Regions from separate parts of the Homo sapiens genome. Here region 1 is linked to region 2. A link means that fine-mapping ties the variant in region 2 to the expression of a gene that starts in the linked region. Tissue or cell type: whole blood. Region 2 holds a variant in brackets; the other region holds the start of a gene. All regions are shown on one strand. Distances are between the middles of the regions.

Region 1 (10,886 bases), 22 kb after region 2:
ATTACTTATTTATAGCATGTTACCTATTGCATGAAAAGAAGAAAAGGTCATACACAAAACACATATTTTTGCAAAAAGAAAACGGTGGAAGAATATTCCAGAAACTGATGATATGCTTACCTGGTTACTTACAGAGATAGTGGAGATGGAGTGAGAGGATTAGGGGACTTCTCTGAATATATATCTTTATATGGTTTTGATTTTTGAGTGTTAAAATTTTATCATTTCCAAAAAGAAAGTCAACAAGGATGAGGAAAAGCCCTAAAATTGAATCCAAACAGAAATGATGACCCTGATTATGTGTCTTATAACAAAACCATACTCAGGAAAAAAGTATTCCAAGTAACTTTTGAGCCTAGTACTCTTACTATACACCCTCAATAGTTTCTATTCAGTGGATAAAAAGAACTACAAGGAAATCTTTATTTAGTAGATTTGTTGTTGATAATGGTATTGGGTATTGGTGTTTGTCTTAGTCTATTCAGTTTTGCTATAACAAAGTACCATAGACTGGCTAGCTAATAAACAATAGAGATGTATTTCTCACAGTTCTGGAGTCTGGGAAGTCTAAGATCAAGGTGCCAGCAGATTTCATGTCTACAGAGGGCCCAAACTGCTGATTCACAGATGGCCATATTCTTGCCATGTCTTCCTATGGCAGAAGGCAGAGAGGAGCCCTCTGGGTTCTCTTTTATAAGGGCACTAATCTGACTTATGAGGGCACCACCCTTATGACCTAATCACTTCCCAAAGGCCTCAATTCCTAATGCCCATCACATTAGGAGTTAGGATTTAACATATGAATTTGGGGGGATACAAGCATTCAGCTTATAACAGAGTTCCAATTCCAAACTATGTTGTGTGTAATGAAGGATTGAGAAAATAAGTAAATATATTAATGTTCTTGGGAAACAAAGTTCATACTTTGAGATAAGGTTCATACAAGAGAATCATATGAGAAGAAGATCATAAGAATTATACAAATATGAAATAGTAGGAGAGAAAGAACCTGTGGTGACTGATTGAAATTAGAGCTATTTCCTAACTCTGTCCACAAGGCTGAATAGAAGAATTAGGCTTATACTATTTATTTCTCCACAGTCTTCATTATATATTTTTCCTTTGCTATATATTTTTTTAGGCTTCCCTTGCTATATATTTTTTTAGGCTTCAAAGGAAATACTTTTGTCTTCTAGTATAATAGTAACATAAACAAAGTATTCCTTGAGTTTCATGATCTGAGGTCAGTGTAGCAACCAAGAAGAAAGGTGAGATTAGATGTCTGAGTAAAACTTCTGGAAATATCTTTCTGTCTTTATTATTCAAGAATTTAATGGAGATGTGTGTGGGTGACACAGACAGTTCTGGAAGTGAGCCCAGAACTCAATGAGTTCTTTCAATTTTCAAGTTGGATTCTGACAGTTTTTGTTGTTTTTCTTTAAATTTGATTACCACATTGACTCTGTAGCTACATTTCCAGGCAGTCCATAATCCAATAAAAACGTCCTGCCTCAGGCTTTGATGGATCTAGGACTTGGAGCTTTTAGATAATAAATATCTGTGATATTTGTAATGGTGTGCCACTGTTCATCTCTTTCCAACTCGGCATTCACTGAAATCACACTGGGAACTTCATCAGCTGTTGTGAGAATATTTACATCATGGAATTGAAAAACACTACACATCAGGGCCTGAGTCGTTGCTTTGTTGGTTATCTTGACTTAAAGTGATGGAGAATTTGCTAACAGGGCAGATTATTTAAAAGTGGGTCACATCTATAGCCATTACATTGTAAAAAGCACAAAAAATTGAGGAAATATTCTTCCAGTATTTGAAAATTATTATCCAATTTAGTAAAGAAGGAATTATGTCATTGACAAATAAGGGTTCTGACATGTCTGCATTGCTTCACTTTCATTTTACTTGTTAATGTAAACAAAAGTGTCAACTTACATTTATGTCAAAACTACACTCATTCCTCAATGGCAACCATAGTTTGCCTATGGCTTTAAAAAAAAAAAAAAAAAAAAAATATATATATATATATATATATATCCAACACAAACTTTATTGTTAAATGAGTTATGTTTGTCTTGCACTAATAAACTTTTATTTCACCCAAATTAGAGCAATAATCTTCCATACTTAAGTATCTTCCCTGCCCAATAATTCAAAGAAACAAAATCCAGAATGATTAGTATAGATATAATTGTGGCAAAAATCTTTGAAACATTCTTTGAGAATCAATCAGCTATTTAGAAACTACAATAGAGTATTATATATTTTGTTATTATTTGTAAATTATGTGTTATCCAACCATTATATCAGTAAAATTTATAATAAACATAACACACATGGAAACTTTGTTTCAAAAATCTGGTTGCTCAATATTTAACAGCCATTACTGGTAGGTGTCATGCATGATATAGTGTGGTAGTAAAATATTGTGTGTTTCTATTTAAAAAAATATGATCTAGATTATACTGAAAATGAATGCTTGTCTTGAGACATACACATGTGTGTTCAATTCAATGGTTACCTAATTGCATGATGAGGAAAGGTCTTTACACAAACACGGAAAGATCAAGTCTACTCTGGACTCTTCTGGAGAAGCCACCTCCACCTCCCACTCAACCATAGTATTGGTGAAACGAAATTACTTCTATTTGGGAAAATGCATCAGTAGTAATTACTGTCCTGGCCAGTTGAGGGGTATGGAGACTGTCCCTATGGAGGTTTGAAGATAAAAGCTCTTGAAAGGTACCTGAGCATAGGGAGTAAGGCCAAAGACTGTGATGTGTCCATCAGGGGGCTCCCTCTGAGGGTAGAACTTCTTGGAGTACTTTTCCCTTGATGTATGGCCATGTCTTATTTTGGGGTGACTAGGTCAGGAGTTTCAGAAGCAAAATGAGGTGGAGTGGTGGGCATGAGGTACCTACAACTCACTGATTCAGGACAGAAGGGAAAGCAGCCCTTTCCCTCCTTTATACCTCAATGGTAGAAATGAGGAGGCTGATGCTAGTTGGTAGAGAAGTTCAAAAGAGCACGATGCTAGGCTACGGCAGTTTGTAGAGAAACCAAAAGGGGGAATTTAGATGAAGTAGGGAAAGGGAAGTTCAGCCCAAAAATGCAGACATGGGCTGTTACATTAAGATGAGCTGTAGCTGTGAAGTAGAAGGAGAATCAAGGAACACGGCCACTTCTACAGCAGGCCACCCCCACCCCAGGCCCTGAGAAGACACGTGCTTCCCAGGAAGAAAGGATCAGAAGGCAGATACCCACAGGAAACAGAGAATTGTGAGAGGATACGCATTCTTCAAGTGAACAAGGCAAAAATAACTTGCAGAAAACAAAGTACTGCAGGAGCTAATGCCGTTCAACAATTTGCCCCTTCTAGAACTTTCTTTCCTTGGCTTTCAAGACCTGCCATCCTGATCCTCTGATAGCTCCTTCCCAGTCCACCCAGGCATGATAAGCAGACCTCGGTGGTAAGACACATTGTCGATAATTAAATAAATCCTCGAAAGTAATCCAGAAATGCCTCTGACTTTATTTCTTATACAATAATTATGTGAGGAAAAAGGGAAACTTTTTGCTGAGTTCTGGAACCCCAAACTCAGGGGAGAGTGGGAGAGGAGGAGTGCTGATTTTAGTTGTGGTTTGGGATGAGATGTAAAGGCCCTGGGGAGAAACAGTCACCAAGTCTGGCTGAGGGCGCTTGTCCTCCCGTCTTCCGCATGCGGGGGTCCAGAGCAGTTTTGGATCAGATGATGAGCGCCATCTGCAGGTAGCAAGCTGGAGGCAGGAGAAAATATCTGTGTACTGTTTAGGATTATTACAGAGCCGAAATAAAAGCCAGGTAAACCATTTGGCCCATCTCTGGTTCTCTTCATTCTGAAATTCAGCCCGATCCTGTAACCCCACAACCTACTGCCTGGCTCCTTCTTCCCCTTCACGGTCACATTTCTGCAAAGAGCGTGTTACGCTCTCTGCTTCCACTTCCTTCCCTCCCTTTCAGTCTTCAGTAGCTGCCATCTCCCTCTCCTCCCTCCTCACCAGGAGACTATGCTTGCCGCTCCTCAGCAGTCCAGCAGACACTTCTCTGACCTGAGGTATCGGTAGCACTGGAATGATAATCCCCCCGCCCCCCTCGACTTGCAACACTGCTTTATTTGGGGTCAAGGAAACACACAGCCCCAGCTTCTCTCCCATCACTCGGCCTCCCCTCTTGCAGATGCCACTATTATCCAGCCACTTGCACGGGCCATCCATGGCTGACCATGGAGTCATCCTTGAGCTTCTCCTTCTCTCAAGGCTCACATTCTTCAGCAAGTCCTGCTTTCACTATTAATTGAGAATCCTCGTTTTCTCAGTTCTTCTCTGCCAGCACCCCAGTCTCAGCCACCCTTGTCTCTCACTTAGGACACTATGGTAGCCACTTGGCTGATCTCTCTGCCTCCACTCTAGCCACCACGCAGCAGCCGGAGTGATCCTGTACATGTGAATCACACCGTGGAACCCCACTTCCTAACCCTCCAAGGCTATCCCCTGATATCCTGGGGTTATCAGGTTACATGTCACCGCCCTATAAACCCTCCCTGAGCCGCCACAGCTGGACTAGGAGCCACTCCTCATCTGTTCCAGGAACACAAGTATATTCTTTCCCAGAGCACCTATTGCCCACTGTGTTCACCATAGCTCCGTGAGCTCAGCGAGGGTTCAGTGAGTGAGTGCATGGCGCCTAGTAAATATTCCACAAAAAAAACTGTGAGTGTAATTGTTTCCCCCACATTTCTAGACATGTAGTATTAACAGATCAAGGAACAGAAAGCAAAACAGGGAAAGCAACGTAAAATTCTGATAATCACAATGATTGCTGAAAAAGTCCCCAAATAGGCAGCAAACATTCTAAAGGGGCCACAGTTTGTGAGTCATTTTATTCTTTTGTAAAGGGTCGGCTTGCGGCAAAAATTAAATGATCTTTGCGTTTGGGCAAGGTCTGGTGCCCCAAAGCTGCCGACTTGATCTGCGGTTGGGGCGAGCGGCAGGTAGGGGGCCCGGAGTTAGGAGGGGGTGTGGGAGCCCGTGGAGCACAGGTGAACTGAGGCCGCCTTCCCGGGGCGCCGCTGGCCAGCCCCAAAGGGTTACTTTGGCCTTGGCTGTGGGCCGAATGCGAAGGTGGGGAGGTGGGCGGGGGATGACTCTGCCATTCCTGGGTCCGCTGTGTTAGGCTGAAGGCAAAAGGAAACCAAGGCCTGGGAGTTTTCCAGGAAACGAAAGCGAAAGAGTCAAAGTTAGCGGCCCGGAGTTGGCGCGGCCCCTGCAGTCCGGCGGAGAGCGGAGCTGAGGATGGCTGTGCCCGGCTCCTTCCCGCTGCTGGTCGAGGGCTCCTGGGGCCCCGACCCCCCGAAGAACTTGAACACCAAGTTGCAGATGTACTTCCAGAGCCCGAAGAGGTCGGGAGGCGGCGAGTGTGAGGTCCGCCAGGATCCCAGGAGCCCATCCCGCTTCCTGGTGTTCTTCTACCCGGAGGACGGTGAGGGGCGCGAGGGGTGGGGTGAGGAGGGGGCACCTCTGCCCTCCCTCCAGGGAAATGGCGGCAGGGCACGCACGGGAGGGTGACCCGCCCGACTTCGGCGGCTGCTGTAGCGGAGGTGGCCGGGGCGGGGGCGGGGGCGGGGGCGGCAGAATGGATTCCGAGCGCACCCGGGGCGCTGCGGTTCCCCGGCGCCCTGCGCTTCCAGGCGCTTAATGGCGCGGCCCGGAGGTGGCGGCGGAACCGCGCAAGTAACTCTTTATCCCTCGATCGTTTTCTGTCTTTCCCTGTTGTGGTGGTGTTATTGTTTGTTGTTGTTGTTGTGGAAGTGAGTCTATCCTCTTATCATCCTTTTCTGTCTTTTCCTGTTGTTATTATTCTTGTGTGGGGAAGGAAACTGATTAAGAAACGTGGCAAGTCACAGAGATTCCTTGTGGTTCTTGGAGATTCCCAGGGGTCCCGGGGTCACTTGGGAGAGGGGCAGAGGCGCTACCTAAAATCACACTGCCTGAATGTCAACGTAGAGCCGTCACAGCGGCCACATTGGAGGGGCTGTCGATCGACCACAGGTGCCCATTGTCGAGGGCCTGCCGGGGCCTCTTCTCCGAGTCTCTAGTGGCCCTCAGATTGGGAGCAAGGATGATATTCTGAAGTGATTGTGGGTTGGGAGATTTGAGCTTTGGAGGGAAAGTCGGCAAAGTTCCCTCCTTACAGACCCACCACTACTTGGTGGGCCAAGAGCCCAGAGGTGATCTGCTGGCTCAAGGGCCTCCCTGGTCTGCAATGGGAAGCCAGTGACCTGCAGCTCCCAGAATGGGCACCTTTTCCACTGGCATCTTATGGATGATGACCTATCGGGATCTAGTCAACCCCTAATTCCGCTTTCATGTCGCTAGATTTGGAGAAGCATTCGGGCCAGAGGAGAGGCAAGGAGGCTGAGGCTGAGGCCATGCAATTAGAGTGCCCAAGCAGGGATCCAAAAAGGAAAAATGAAACAGAAAAAGAATGGCGCACAGAAGGAAGGAAGGAGGGGGACAGGAGATATGCTTGGCTCATGGCCCTTATGAAAACAAAATACCATGTTTTCCTAGGATTAATTTTACCAAGGAGTGCTCAGAAGGGCAACTGTGTGATATTAGTCATTTCTCTTTTGGGTGTCACTTTTCCTTGAGGGTTTTCCCCACTTTGACTTCAGAGGTCAGCATCACCATCGATCTGGCCCTTAAGGATGCTTCTTTCTCCTTTAGATTCCATTATCCTTAGAAGTAGGTCTGACCTGCATCTGAATCACCTGGAGAGCAGGTTAACCAGGCACCTTCCCAGCTCTGTTTTAGAGATTCAGGTTCAGTGAATGTGGGGTGGGTGGGAAGCGTGTATTTAACCGGCAGCCCAGGTGACCCTAATGTGTTCAAGTTTCAGAATTTCCGTAGTTAATGTTAACCCCAAATGAACAAAAAGAAATAATTATACAAATTTAAACAGCATGAAAATACAAATAGCACAAAGTATAATTTTGTGATGATAAAATAACTCAATTCTAGCCCTCCAAGCAGAAAAGATTTCAGTCTTCCTGCTGGGCTTCCATCCTTGACCGGCCCCAGCCCACTACTCCTCTTCCTCCACCCCCAGGCTGCTCCAGTGGCCCCTCTTGTCTTACCCCCCAGCACAGATGACCCAAAACTTATTAAAACTCAAAACCGGCCGGGCGTGGTGGCTCACGCCTGTTAATCCCAGCACTTTGGGAGGCTGAGGCAGGTGGATGACGAGTTGAGGAGATCGAGACCATCCTTGAGCAACATGGTGAAACCCTGTCTCTACTAAAACACACAAAAAAATTAGCCGAGCGTGGTGGTGTGCGCCTATAGTCCCAGCTACTCAGGAGGCTGAGGCAGGGGAATTGCTTGAACCAGGGAGGCAGAGGTTGCAGTGAGGTGAGATCGCACCACTGCACTCCAGCCTGGCAACAGAGCAAGACTCCATCTAAAACAAAACAAAAACAAACAAACAAAAAGAAACAAACAAACAAAAACAAACTCGAAACCTAGTATGGTCTAAGTTCTTGGGGGTGGAAAATCCCTAGTCAGTTTCAGTTTCCTACTTGAGGAACCACTTTCTCAGTAACAAGGGTCAGGAATTTGCTAACAATGAATGACCTACGCTTGAAGTCCCAGAAGTGCATTCTTCTTCTGCAGAGGACACTCTCCACCCTCCATGCCAGGAAGTGGCCTCAACAGGTGCGGGCCCATAGCATAACCTGATTTGATTCATATAAACTGTAATAGGCAGATAACAAGAATGAGCCCACCAGCACTTCTCCGTATTTATTCATGTATAGCAAATAGAAACAAATGGGAAGCTGTATCTCACTTTTATATAGTTCACTGGATTTCTGAAAAGTTGGTGTAAATTGACATAACATTTTAAGCCCTGTTTCAGATGTGTCTATTTTATCATACTTTACCAACATAGTTTGGTTCCTGGTTGTTGTCGGGTTCCTTGTGGTAAGAACCCATCTTCTCCTTAAATAAAATTAAATGTTGATGATCTAAAGTTGGTGCAGGTGGAAGACTGTCCACTTGGGTAAGGGAGGTTGGACATCAGAGTTTCAGCTTTTTCCTCCCAGATTGACTTTCTCCTTTTTGGAGATCATATACCCATATTATTACCAACTGTTCTCCTGAAATACTTGTGCCCATAAATATTGCCCACAATCTGAGAACAGACTGGCACATTTAGATGCCTAGACAGGACTTTATCAAAGTCTAGGGAATAAGAAAAGGACTGTAACACAGAGGTCCATGACTCTAAATAACTTGACTTACAAAATTTAGCTTGTTGTCAGGCTGCAGGGGTCCTATCCAGTCCTCAATCCCCACCTTGGTTTAGTAAAGCCCTTCAGGAGTTTGTGTGGAAACATCTGCCCTCCTCATAAAGAGTGAGATTAGAAGCTGGCGTTCCTTCTCAGGTTGTTTCTGAGGCCTATTTCTGAGTTGGCATCCAATTAAGACCCCACTTCCTCCACCCTCTTCACAGAGGGTTGAGGTGGGAAAGCTATCATGCTCCTATTCATGAAAGATTCTGATCTATATCCTTGGCCTCATCAGGCCAGCCATATCAGAACACAGCATAGTGACCCAACATTCATGCTAGAGCTACACCTGTGACCTGTAGGGCACTCTCAAAAACTCCTTTTTTCCCTGACCTCTTTGTACTATCTGACTATGTTGATCATGCCTCCTCCTTGAAACTCACTTCTTCCCGTTCTTCATGGACTGAGATATGCTGATTTTCTTCATATCTCTCTGGCTGCTCCTTTTTATAATCGTAACTCACATCTGCGTAGTTCTTGAGGATGTTACAGTGTGCATTCATGGACACCACTTTAAGTGAGGAAACTGAGAGTTGAGAGAAGTTAAGGTATTCACTCAGCTATTTGTGGTAGAGTTGGAATTCAAATCCAGATCTTTGGACTCTATGTCCACTGTTCAGTTGTTTCACTACAGCCAAGCTGCCTGATATGCTAATCTATTAATTTGTTCATTTTTTTTTTTGCAAAAATCTCCCCCTTCTTTTATACTCCTTTTACTATCAGATGTGAGACCTGTTTCTAACTAGGCTCCTGCTTACAGCCACCTAGCCACCTTCCTAAAACGTGACTTTCATCATGGCATGTCCCAGTACCCAATCTTCACTGGCTCCCATTGAAGGATGCTTTAATTTAATTCACTTCAATATAGAATAAATATTGCTACCTTTTGAGTACCTCCTGAGTGTCAGGTCCTGTACCAAGTTCTTTATAATGTTTCTTCAATTTAATACACGTGGCACTCATACAAAACAGTCTCCATTAACCTTACAAATAGACAAGAAAACTGAGGCCTTATAAGTATGGCTTATTAGGGAACATGCTCAATATTAAAAAGTCAGTTTAAGGAAGAAATTCAAATCCATGTTTGCTTGCTAAACTTTTCCTCTTTTACTTCACATATAGCCTCTCTTGAGAAACCGACCAAGCCATTGATTGATGGTAATGCAGCCCACGGAAATCATAGAATAATTTTGTAAATAAAGATTGCTTGTCATTTGTCTTTTTTCCCCCCTTTGGACATTTCAGTTCGGCAGAAGGTTCTGGAGAGAAAAAATCATGAGTTGGTATGGCAAGGAAAAGGAACATTCAAGTTAACTGTCCAGTTACCTGCAACCCCAGATGAAATCGATCATGTCTTTGAAGAGGAACTTCTAACAAAAGCAAGTAAACTTTAGGCATGAATAAAAGGGATTTAGGTCTCCCAAGGTGTGTGAGATGGGAATCACCATGAAGAAAATATAGTGGAAAGAAAAGCATGAAGCAAACTGCAGCGAGAAAAGCAGATTACAAATGTAGGGGGAGTGAGGGCAGTGGTAGGGTAGGGTAGTATGGGATAAAGTAGGAGGGGGTACTTTTTTTTTTTTTTTTTGAGACGGAGTCTCGCTCTGTCAACCAGGCTGGAGTACAGTGGTATAATCTTGGCTCACTGCAACCTCTGCCTCCTGGGTTCAAGTGATTCTTCTGCCTTAGCCTCCTGAGTAGCTGTGACTACAGGCATATGCCACTATGCCCAGATAATTTTTATATTTTTAGTAGAGACGGGGTTTCACCATATTGGCCAGGCTGGTATCAAACTCCTGACCTCATGATCGGCCCACCTAGGCCTCCCAAAGTGCTGGGATTACAGTCATGAGCCACCGCACCCTGCTGGGGGTACTTTTTATGTGATTTTAGACACATTTGGAAAAGCCAAGATTTGGGGATTATAATAATGGTGGTTTTGGATGTAAAATTTGGGGTCTGTGTCTCCAGAGTTCTTTATAACCTGTAACCTGTTATATTTGTTTTATTTTCTATGTCATTTTGAGGAGACAGCAATCCATACTACCTGTATTAAGTATTACCCCAATTGTAAAATGGAATAGTAACATTAATGATCCAACAACAGATTGCAGGATTATTGTGAGGGTTGAACAAGATGATCTGTATAAAGCACATGACACAGTTCTTGTTATATATAATAAACACTCAGTAAATGTTTTATTTGTATTTGTTTTATTTATTTCTTTTTTAGAGGCAGGGTCTCACTCTGTTGCCCAGGCTGGAGTGCAGTGGCATGATCATGGCTTGCTGCCTCCTTGACCTCCTGGGCTTAGGTGATCCTCCTACCTCAGCCTCCCCAGTAGCTGGGACTGTAGGCACATGCCACCACACCTGGCTAATTTTTTGTATTTTTTGTAGAGTCGGGGTTTTACCATGTTGCCTAGGCTGCTCTTGAACTGCTGGGCTCATGTGATCCACTTGCCTTGGCCTCCCAAAGTG
Region 2 (10,886 bases):
GCTAAATACCCCAATTAAAAGACACAGACTGGCAAATTGGATAAAGAGTCAAGACCCATCAGTGTCCTGTATTCAGGAAACCCATCTCACGTGCAGAGACACACATAGGCTCAAAATAAAGGGATGGAGGAAGATTTACCAAGCAAAGGAAAAGGAAAAAAAGGCAGGGGTTGCAATCCTAGTTTTTGAGAAAGCGGACTTTAAACCAACAAAGATCAAAAGAGACAAAGAAGGCCATTACACAATGGTAAAGGGATCAATTCAACAAGAAGAGCTAACTATCCTAAATATATATGAACCCAATACAGGAGCACCCAGATTCATAAAGCAAGTCCTTGGAGACCTACAAAGAGACTTAAGATTTCCACACAATAATAATGGGAGAATTTAACACCTCACTGTCAATATTAGACAGATCAACGAGACAGAAGGTTAGCAAGGATATCCAGGATTTGAACTCAGCTCTGCACCAAGGAGACCTAACAGACATCTACAGAACTCTCCATCCCAAATCAACAGAATATACATTCTTCTCAGCACCACATCACACTTACTCCAAAATTGACCACATAATTGGAAGTAAAGCACTCCTCAGCAAATGTAAAATAATAGAAATCACAGGCCAGGCGCGGTGGCTCACGCCTGTAATCCCAGCACTTTGGGAGGCCGAGGCAGGTGGATCACGAGGTCAGGAGATTGAGACCACTCTGGCTAACACAGTGAAACCCCGTCTCTAGTAAAAATACAAAAAATTAGCCGGGCGTGGTGGCAGGTGCCTGTAGTCCCAGCTACTCGGGAGGCTGAGGCAGGAGAATGGTGTGAACCCAGGAGGTGGATCTTGCAGTGAGCTGAGATCTCGCCACTGCACTCCAGCCTGGGTGACAGAGCGAGACTCCACCTCAAAAAAAAAAAGAAAAAGAAAAAATAAAAATAAATCACAACAAGCTGTCTCTCAGACCACAGTGCAATCAAATTAGAAGAATCAAGAAACTCACTCAAAACCACACAACTACATGGAAACTGAACAATCTGCTCCTGAGTGACTACTGGGTAAATAACGAAATAAAGGCAGAAATAAAGATGTTCTTTGAAACCAATGAGAACAAACACACAACGTACCAGAATCTCTGGGACACATTTAAAGCATGTGTAGAGGGAAATTTATAGCACTAAATGCCCACAAGAGAAAGCAGGAAAGATCTAAAATTGACACCCTAACATCACAATTAAAAGAACTAGAGAAGCAAGAGCAAACAAATTCAAAAGCTAGCAGATGGCAAGAAATAGCTAAGATCAGAGCAGAACTGAAAGAGATAGAGAGACAAAAAAACCTTCAAAAAAATCAATGAATCCAGGAGCTGGTTTTTTGAAATGATCAACAAAGTTGATAGACCACTAGCAAGACTAATAAAGAAGAAAAGAGAGAAGAATCAAATAGACACCAAAAAAAATGATAAAGGGGATTATCACCACTGATCCCACAGAAATACAAACTACCATCAGAGAATATTATAAACACCTCTACACAGGCCGGGCGTGGTGGCTCACGCCTGTAATCCCAGCACTTTGGGAGGCTGAGGTAGGTGGATCACGAGGTCAGGAGATTGAGACCATCCTGGTTAACACAGTGAAACCCCATCTCTATTAAAAATACAAAAAAATTAGCTGGGGCATGGTGGCATGCCCCTGTAGTCCCAGCTACTCGGGAGGCTGAGGCAGGAGAATCGCTTGAACCTGGGAGGTGGAGGTTGCAGTCAGCCAAGATCGTGCCGCTGCACTCCAGCCTGCGAGACACAGAGAGACTGTGTCTCAAAAACAAACAAACAAACAAACAAACAAAACACCTCTACACAAATAAACTAGAAAATCTAGAAGAAATGGATAAATTCCTGGACACATACACCCTCCCAAGACTAAACCAGGAAGAAGTTGAATCTCTGAATAGACCAGTAACAGGCTCTGGAATTAAGACAATAATTAATAGCCTACCAATCAAAAAAAGTCCAGGACCAGATGGATTCACAGCCGAATTCTACCAGAGGTACAAAGAGGAGCTGGTACCATTTCTTCTGAAACTATTCCCATCAATAGAAAAAGAGGGAATCCTCCCTAATTCATTTTATGAGGCCAGCATCATCCTGATACCAAAGCCTGGCAGAGACACAACAAAAAAAGAGAATTTTAGGCCAATATCCATGATGAACATCTATGCGGAAATCCGCAATAAAATACTGGCAAACTGAATCCAGCAGCACATCAAAAACTTATCCACCATGATAAAGTTGGCTTCATCCCTGGGATTTGAAGCTGGTTCAACATACACAAATCAATAAACATGATCCATCACATAAACAGAACCAATGACAAAACCACATGATAATCTCAATAGATGCAGAAAAGGCCTTTGACAAAATTCAACAGCCCTTCATGCTAAAACCTCTCAATAAACTAGGTATTGATGGAACGTATCTCAAAATAATAAGAGCTATTTATGACAAAGCCACAGCCAATATCATACTGAATGGGCAAAAACTGGAAGCATTCCCTTTGAAAACCGGCACAAGACAAGGATGCCCTCTCTCACCACTCCTATTCAACATAGTGTTGGAAGTTCTGGCCAGGGCAATCAGGCAAGATAAAGAAATAAAGGGTATTCAGTTAGGAAAAGAGGAAGTCAAATTGTCCCTGTTTGCAGATGACATGATTGTATATTTAGAAAACCCCACTGTCTCAGCCCAAAATCTCCTTAAGCTGATAAGCAACTTCAGCAAAGTCTCAGGATACAAAATCAATGTGCAAAAATCACAAGCATTCCTATACACCAATAACAGACAAACAAAGAGCCAAATCATGAGTGAACTCCCATTCACAATTGCTACAAAGAGAATAAAATACCTTGGAATCCAACTTACAAGGAATGTAAAGGACCTCTTCAAGGAGAACTACAAACAACTGCTCAATGAAATAAAAGAGGACACATACAAATGGACGAATATTCCATGCTCATGGATAGGAAGAATCAATATCGTAATTTATAGATTCAATGCCATCCCCATTAAGCTACCAATGACTTTCCTCACAGAATTGGAAAAAACTACTTTAAAGTTCATATGGACCCAAAAAAAAGCCTGCATTGCCAAGACAATCCTAAGCAAAAAGAACAAAGCTGGAGGCATCACACTACCTGACTTCAAACTATACAAGTCTACAGTAACCAAAACAGCATGGTACTGGTACCGAAACAGAGATATAGACAGATGGAACAGAACAGAGGCCTCAGAAATAACACCACACGTCTACAACCATCTGATCTTTGACAAACCTGACAAAAACAAGAAATGGAGAAAGGATTCCCTGTATAATAAATGGTGCTGGGAAAACTGGCTAGCCATATGCAGAAAGATGAAACTGCATCCCTTCCTTACACCTTATACAAAAATTAATTCAAAATTGTTTAAAGACTTAAATGTTAGACCTAAAATCATAAAAACCCTAGAAGAAAACCTAGGCAATACCATTCAGGACATAGGCATGGGCAAGGACTTCATGACTAAAACACCAAAAGCAATGGCAACAAAAGCCAAAATAGATAAATGGTATCTAATTAAATGAAAGGGCTTCTGCACAGCAAAAGAAACTACCATCAGAGTGAATAGGCAACCTACAGAATGGGAAAAAATTTTTGCAATCTACCTATCTGACAAAGGGCTAATATCCAGAATCTACAAAGAACTCAAACAAATTTACAAGAAAAAAACAACCCCATCAAAAAGTGGGCAAAGGATATGAACAGACACTTCTCAAAAGAAGACATTAATGCAGCCAACAGACAAATGAAAAAATGCTCATCATCACTGGTCATCAGAGAAATCCAAATCAAAACCACAATGAGATACCATCTCACACCAGTTAGAATGGCGATCATTAAGAAGGCAGTAAACAACAGATGCTGGAGAGGATGTGGAGAAATAGGAACGCTTTTACACTGTTGGTGGGAGTGTAAACTAATTCAACCATTGTGGAAGACAGTGTGGTGATTCCTCAAGGGTCTAGAACTAGAAATACCATTTGACCCAGCGATCCCATTACTGGGTATATACCCAAAGGATTGTAAATCATGCACACGTATGTTTATTGTGGCACTATTCACAATAGCAAAGACTTGGAACCAACCCAAATGTCCATCAATGATAGACTGGATTAAGAAAATGTGGCACATATACACCATGGAGTACTATGCAGCCATAAAAAAGGATGAGTTCATGTCCTTGGCAGGGATGTGGATGAAGCTGGAAACCATCATTCTGAGCAAACTATCACAAGGACAGAAAATCAAGCACCGCATGTTCTCACTCATAGGTGGGAATTGAACAATGAGAACACTTGGACACAGGGTGGGGAACATCACACACCGGGGCCTGTCAGGTGGTGGGAGGCTGGGGGAGAGATAGCATTAGGAGAAATACCTAATGTAAATGAGGAATTGATGGGTTCAGCAAACCAACATGGTACGTGTATACCTATGTATCAAACCTGCACACTGTGCCCATGTACCCTAGAACTTAAAGTATAATAAAAAATAAAAACAAAACAAAAAAAAAACCTTTAACTTGGCCTGATACTAAATAATTGTATTGGTCAGGGTTCTCTAGAGAAACAGAACCAACAGGGCGTGTTGAGATTATATAAATAAATTACAGGCTGGGCATAGTGGTTCACACCTGTAATCCCAGCATTTTGGGAGGAGTGGGCAGGTAGATCACTTGAGCCCAGGAGTTTGAGACCAGCCTGGGCAACATGGCAGAACACTGTCTCTACAAAAAATACAAAAATTACCTGAGCGTGGTGGTGCATGCCTGCAGTCCCAGCTACTTAGGAGGCTGAGGTGGGAGGATTGCTTGAGCTCAGGAGGTTGAGCAAGGCTGCAGTGAGCCGTGATTGCACCACTCTACTCCAGCCTGGGCAACAGAGTGAGACACCGTCTCTAAAAATAAATAAATAAATTACAGTTCGCAGTGGCTTATGCCTGTAATCCCAGCACTTTGGGAGGCAAGGCGGGTGGATCACTTGAGGTCAGGAATTCGAGACCAGCCTGGTCAACATGGTGAAACCCCATCTCTATGAAAAATACAAAAAATTCCCGGGCGTAATGGTGTCTGTAATCTCAGCTACTCAGGAGGCTGAGGGAGGAGAATCGCTTGAACCTGGGAGGCGGAGGTTGCAATGAGCCAAGATCACACCATTGCACTCCAGCCTGGGTGACAGAACAAGACTCTGTCTCAAATAAAATAAAATAAAATAAAATAAAACAAAATAAAATAAATAAAATAAAATAAAATAAAATAATTAAAAAATAAATTACAGAATTAATTAAAATTGCAATAAATATTTAAAAAGAGGTAGAGAGTGATATAAAATGTACTGCTTAACTGAGTCTGAGAAGTCAGGATAGGCTTTTCTGAGGAATATGTCAAACAGAAATAAGATTTTTTGGTTTTAAAATATAAGAAGGTAGAAGAAAAATGTTTAAGGTGAAATAAACCTATGTTTCCAAGTGGGATGAATTAGCTAGTGACAGAATGTGTTCTCACCTAAAATAAGCAGAAAATTAGAACAAAATAGAGGAGGCATCTATTTTAAGGCAGAAAAGGGCTTCTGAGTTAGCAATAACTGAAGGAGCCAAAACTCCAGAGAGGGAGAATCACAGCTAGGGAGAGCTGAGTTCTGCAGCCACTGTGCCTAGGGGTCATCTGCTGATTCTGTGCTTGGGGAGGAGACTGATAACCCCAGGCCTTGCACCCAAGGAAGGCCACTGCTGGGAGGCAGAGGCCAGGAGGGATATGGGAGGAGATTTGGAAGGTCTCCAGAGAACATCTGTTAAATTACAGGGGTGCATGAGGCTGGAGTCTAAAAAGAGAAGCAGAAAACTTCTGAAGCAGAACAGAGCCTTCGGCAGTCTTGTAAAGACAAAGATTAGAATTCTTGGCCCACCAGGTGGAAGAGCATGGAGAATACACTAGGATTTCTGCTGAAAATCCTGAAGAAGCAGGAGTAAAATCAATGCAGGCTGAGCCTTACGAAGGACACAACTCAGCCTCAACTCACCACAGTGCATAGAGGATTCAGGGTTAGATTTAATTAATTCTAAATTAGAATTAGATACAAGTCACCAATTAGAAGCAAGATGCTTTATAAAATTAATATAATTTTTATTGTATGTGGAGAAAATAAATGAGCAAGTACATCAAAGAGCATTTCAGATTCAAAAAGAGTGATGAGAAGAATTTGTCCTAGCAGACATTTAATGTACTGGTAACAAATTTGAAACACTTGGTGTACAGGAATATCAATAATGAGAATATTTAAAAGACCCACACTTTGCACTACACTCT[GA/G]AAAAAAAAATCCAGGTAGATTGGGAGTTAAATACATTTAAAAAAACAAATACACATATGTAAAAGACTAGCACTAGGGGAAATCACTTTTTGACTGTCGATGGAATATAAATGAAAAAAAGACGGACAGGTTCATGACTTAGATAGCTTTATCTTTGGTGGAATGAATACCAATAAAGCTGAAATTTAAAAATTCAGAAGACTGGAGAAAAAGTTTGCAAATGAAGACAAAGTTCAATAACTAAAAAGTATAAAGAGTGCATATAAATAGGTAAAATTACCAACTATTAAACAAATGATTAAAAAACAGTTCATACAACAAGAAACACTGTCAGTAAATCATAATTTTAAAACTATTCAGTCAACCTTGTTGGTAAAATAACTGCAAATTAAACCTACGGTGAAGTTTCATTTTGTGCCTTAAAAAAATTTAGAAAAACTTTTAAAAAGTTGTAAAAGCCAAAGCCTGCAAGGCTTCGGGAAGCAGATATGCTCATGCATTAATGAAAGCAGCGTAAACTGATTCAGTCTTCCTGAAGGGCAAAATGGTACTTTATTGAAAGAATCATAAATATGCCTAACCCCTGACCAAGTAATAGAATTTATCCTGAGGAAATGATGTTTAATAAAAAGTGTATGTATATATAATGTTTATTTTATGATGGCAAACATTGGAATAAAGCTAAGAGCCCAACAATACAGATATACAGAAAGAAGCTAACTATGGCATATCAAAATGATATACTCTAGTGATATACTAAAAATGATGAATATGAAGGTGCTATAGGAAATAGAAAATATTTGGATAAATCATGTTACATAAAAGGAAGAATACCAAATTGAACATACACACCCATTATGACTATAACAGAACCATGAATATACATAAGCAAAGTGAGAAAAGGACACACCTAGGAAATGTTTCTAGCTGGGTTAAGATCAACAGACTTGCAGTGAATTATTCTGTCAAGTTGTTAAGACATTAGATTTCCCTTTGCGTTCTCTTTCCCTCTCCCAACATGGCTGCCTCAGCGAAAAAGAAGAATAAGAAGGGGAAGACTATCTCCCTAACAGACTTTCTGGCTGAGGATGGCGGACTGGTGGAGGAAGTAGCTATGTATCCAAACCAGTCAGCTGGGTTGATGAAACGGATGACCTGAAGGAGATGTTTCAGCTTGGCACAGTAACGATGACGATGTGTATAGGGCGCCCCCAGTTGACCGTTCCATCCTTCCCACTGCTCCACGGGCTGCTAGGGAACCCATTATCGACCGGAGCGGTCTTCCCAAATCGCCACCCTACACTGCTTTTCTAGGGAACCTACCCTATGACGTGACAGAAGAGTCAATTAAGGAATTATTTAGAGGATTAAATATCAGTGCAGTGTGTTTACCACGTGAACCCAGCAATCCAGAGAGGTTGAAAGGTTTTGGTTATGCTGAATTTGACGACCTGGATTCCCTGTTCAGTGCCCTGAGTCTCAATAAAGAATCTCTAGGTAACAGGAGAATTCGAGTGGACGTTGCTGACCGAGCACAGGATAAAGACAGGGACGATCGTTCTTTTGGCCATGAGAGAAATCGGGATTTTGACAAAACAAATACAGACTGGAGGGCTCGTCCTGTCACAGACAGCTTGGATGACTACTCGCCTAGAAGAGGTGATGATTGCTTTGGAGACAAGTATCAAGATCGTTATGATTCAGACCGGTATCGCGGTGGGTATCGGGAGGGGTATCAGGATGGCCCACGCTGGGATATGGATCGATATGGCGGCCAGGATTGCTATGATGACCCAGGCAGCAGACACTATGATAGAGGCTATGATTCCCAGATAGGCAATGGCAGAAGAGCATTTGGTAGTGGGTACCGCAGGGATAATGACTACAGAGGAGGCAGGGACCGCTCTGAAGACCGATACAACAGACGGGATGATCGGTCGTGGAGCTCCAGAGATGATTACACTTGGGATGATTATAGGTGTGATGATAGAGGTCCCCGCAAAGACCCAAACTGAATCTAAAGCTTTGGAGTACTCCCAAGGAAGATGATTCCTCTGCTAGTACCTCCCAGTCCAGTCGAGCTGCTTCTATCTTTGGAGGGGCAAAGCCGGTTGACACAGCTGGTAGAGAAAGAGAAGTAGAAGAAATGCTACAGAACAAGAGAAGTTGCAGCGTCAGCTGGATGAGCCATAACTAGAACGACGGCCTCGGGAGAGACACCCAAGCTGGCAAAGTGAAGAAACTCAAGAATGGAACGGTCGCGGACAGGAAGTGAGTCATCGCAGACTGAGACCTCCGCCATACCCAGCAGAAATGCACGAAGGAGAGAGAGTGAGAAGTCTCTAGAAAATGAAACACTCAATAAGGAGGAAGATTGTCACTCTCCAACTTCTAAACGTCTCAAACCTGATCCTACCAGACCCAAAGGTAATGCCAGCCCCTCCACCAAAGGAGAATGCTTCGGTGAAGTGAAGTTCTAACGCTCCTGCTCCATCTCAGAGCTCAGACACAGAGCAGCAATCCCCTACAAGTGGTGGGGGAAAAGTAGCTCCAGCTCGATCATCTGAGGAAGGACCAGCAAAGAAAGATGAAAATAAAGTGGATGGGATGAAAGTCCCAAAAGGTCAAACTGGGAACTCTAGCTGTGGTCCAGGAGATGGAGGGAACAAAGACCACTGAAAGGAGTCAGATAGGAAAGATGGCAAAAAGGATCAAGACTCCAGATCTGCACCTGAGCCAAAGAAACCTGAGGAAAATCCAGCTTCCAAGTTCAGTTCTGCAAGCAAGTATGCTGCTGTCTCCGTTTCTGGTGAAGATGAAAACAAGGGAGAAGATTATGCCGAGTGGACCTAGACATCCTGTGCTTTCTCCTAGTTTCTCTCCACCCTGGAACGTTCGAGAGCAAATCAAACTTCTATCCAGACAAGACAAAATAAAACTCACCATCTCCTGGAGACTTTTCTTACCTTTCTTTTTTTTTTTTTTAAGTGAAATTCTTTTGCATGCTGCTGCAGCCTTTAGAGTATTGAAGTAACTGGAGAATCGCCAATATAGCCAGAGAGAAAGAGACTACAGCTTTTTAGTGGAAAAGTTGTGGTGCGTTTTGTCACCATGCAGTTGCCAGAGTGATTAATACCTAGGAGCCTCCATTTAGTGGAAATGGTAATGACAGTGAGATAAGGTCTGGAATCTGGTTGGACAGTAGGGGAAGGAAGTATAAGGAAAAGTGTGAGATTTCTACTTTTTATTTTTTACCCTATTGTGGCATATATGAATTCTCAAACATCTAAATAAATTTTTCACTCTTGGAAAGGTAGATTTAGCCTCAAGTTGTTTTAGTCTTCAGGAGGCTCCCAGCCCCTCCTGTTATTTAATTCTGAGTTTTAGGGGCCAGCCTAGAGGGAATTCTTTCATTCTTTTTTTTTTTTTTTTTTACCCTCCAAGGGGGTAGTTCGGGGTGAGTCTATAGGCCATAAAGAATAGGACTGCATTGGACCAAGATAAATGGGAAAATTGTGGTTTGAAAAGAAGCTTTTGGGAGGTAATGAGTCATTTTGTATCAGGTAATAGGGGAAAATTGTGCGACCTCCAGCAAACACAAGAATGGTTATTTCCCGGAGCCAGAAGCACTTGGGGGTCATGATAATTCCCAATGTTTGTGTGTCCTGGTTTTACCCTTTTTAAACACTGTCCTTTTTGAAAGTTCGAATATATCCACATTCTGTTGAAACCTTGAAACTTTAAAAATTTAGACTCTTGTCGTCATCTTAAGCTCTTCATGCTACTCTTAACCTCCCAAAAAGCAGTCTCTAAGTCACATAGATGATCTCTTGGGCATTTTCTCTCAGCCATGGAGAGGAGTGAAAGGCAGAATCGCTGCTTTTCTCAAGCAAATCGGTTTCTTGATGTCTTTTGGTTCTCACTCGTTGCCTACTCCTAATGGTTTGACCCCTTTTATAGATCAGGGTGCTCTAGGGTAATGGATGGTCTTGGGTGGTGAATAAAGGTGGATAAATAGGGACAGGGACAGTTAAATTGGGAGCCTTTCTCACAACCTCGATGGTTTTTTCCCCCCAAGTTTCCTTCTCCACTGAAATGACACACCAATGGTTGTTGGATTTATGAGGTGGCCAGACCAATGGGTTGTTTTTTCTTTTTCTTTTCTTTTTTTTAAGTCTCCCTTGAGAGAATAAATGGTAATGGAGAGAACTATTTAACAAGGTCCTGGTTTCTCTTGCAACACAGTAGCTAAACTTGCCTGCTTTTATGTGCATTTTTGTAGGGATCAGCTTGGTAGACAGTATTAGCAGAGAAATGACACCTTGATCTTGGTTTGCAAGCACTTCTCCTGTCAGTCCTAGATTAGGCCCTGCTCAGCCATGCAGGGGTGTTGGTTTATGCGTGCTGCAGCAGTGGGCATAATGAATATAATTTGCCCAGTGAACAAAAGTGTGTACCAAATGAATTTAAATAATTAGGGTGGACTGGCTAG

Evidence for each region. PIP is the estimated chance that this variant, and not a neighbour inherited with it, causes the effect.
Region 1: it holds the start of PARP14, and the variant in region 2 is fine-mapped to the expression of PARP14 in whole blood (INTERVAL, PIP 0.97).

Annotation. Positions count from the first base shown.
Region 1 is chr3:122,675,535-122,686,420 of GRCh38, forward strand. PARP14 (poly(ADP-ribose) polymerase family member 14) reads left to right here and starts at 5,305. Exons shown (of 17, transcript NM_017554.3): 1 at 5,305-5,536; 2 at 9,651-9,784. The coding sequence starts at 5,350. RefSeq lists enhancers at 4,293-4,412, 4,816-5,588, 5,013-5,412, 5,954-6,043, 7,429-7,508 and 1 more and a silencer at 5,653-5,702.
Region 2 is chr3:122,653,201-122,664,086 of GRCh38, forward strand. It overlaps the pseudogene EIF4BP8. Among named protein-coding and RNA genes, the nearest start is that of PARP14, 22 kb to the right of the region's middle. The variant GA/G (reference allele first, on the strand shown) is at 6,393.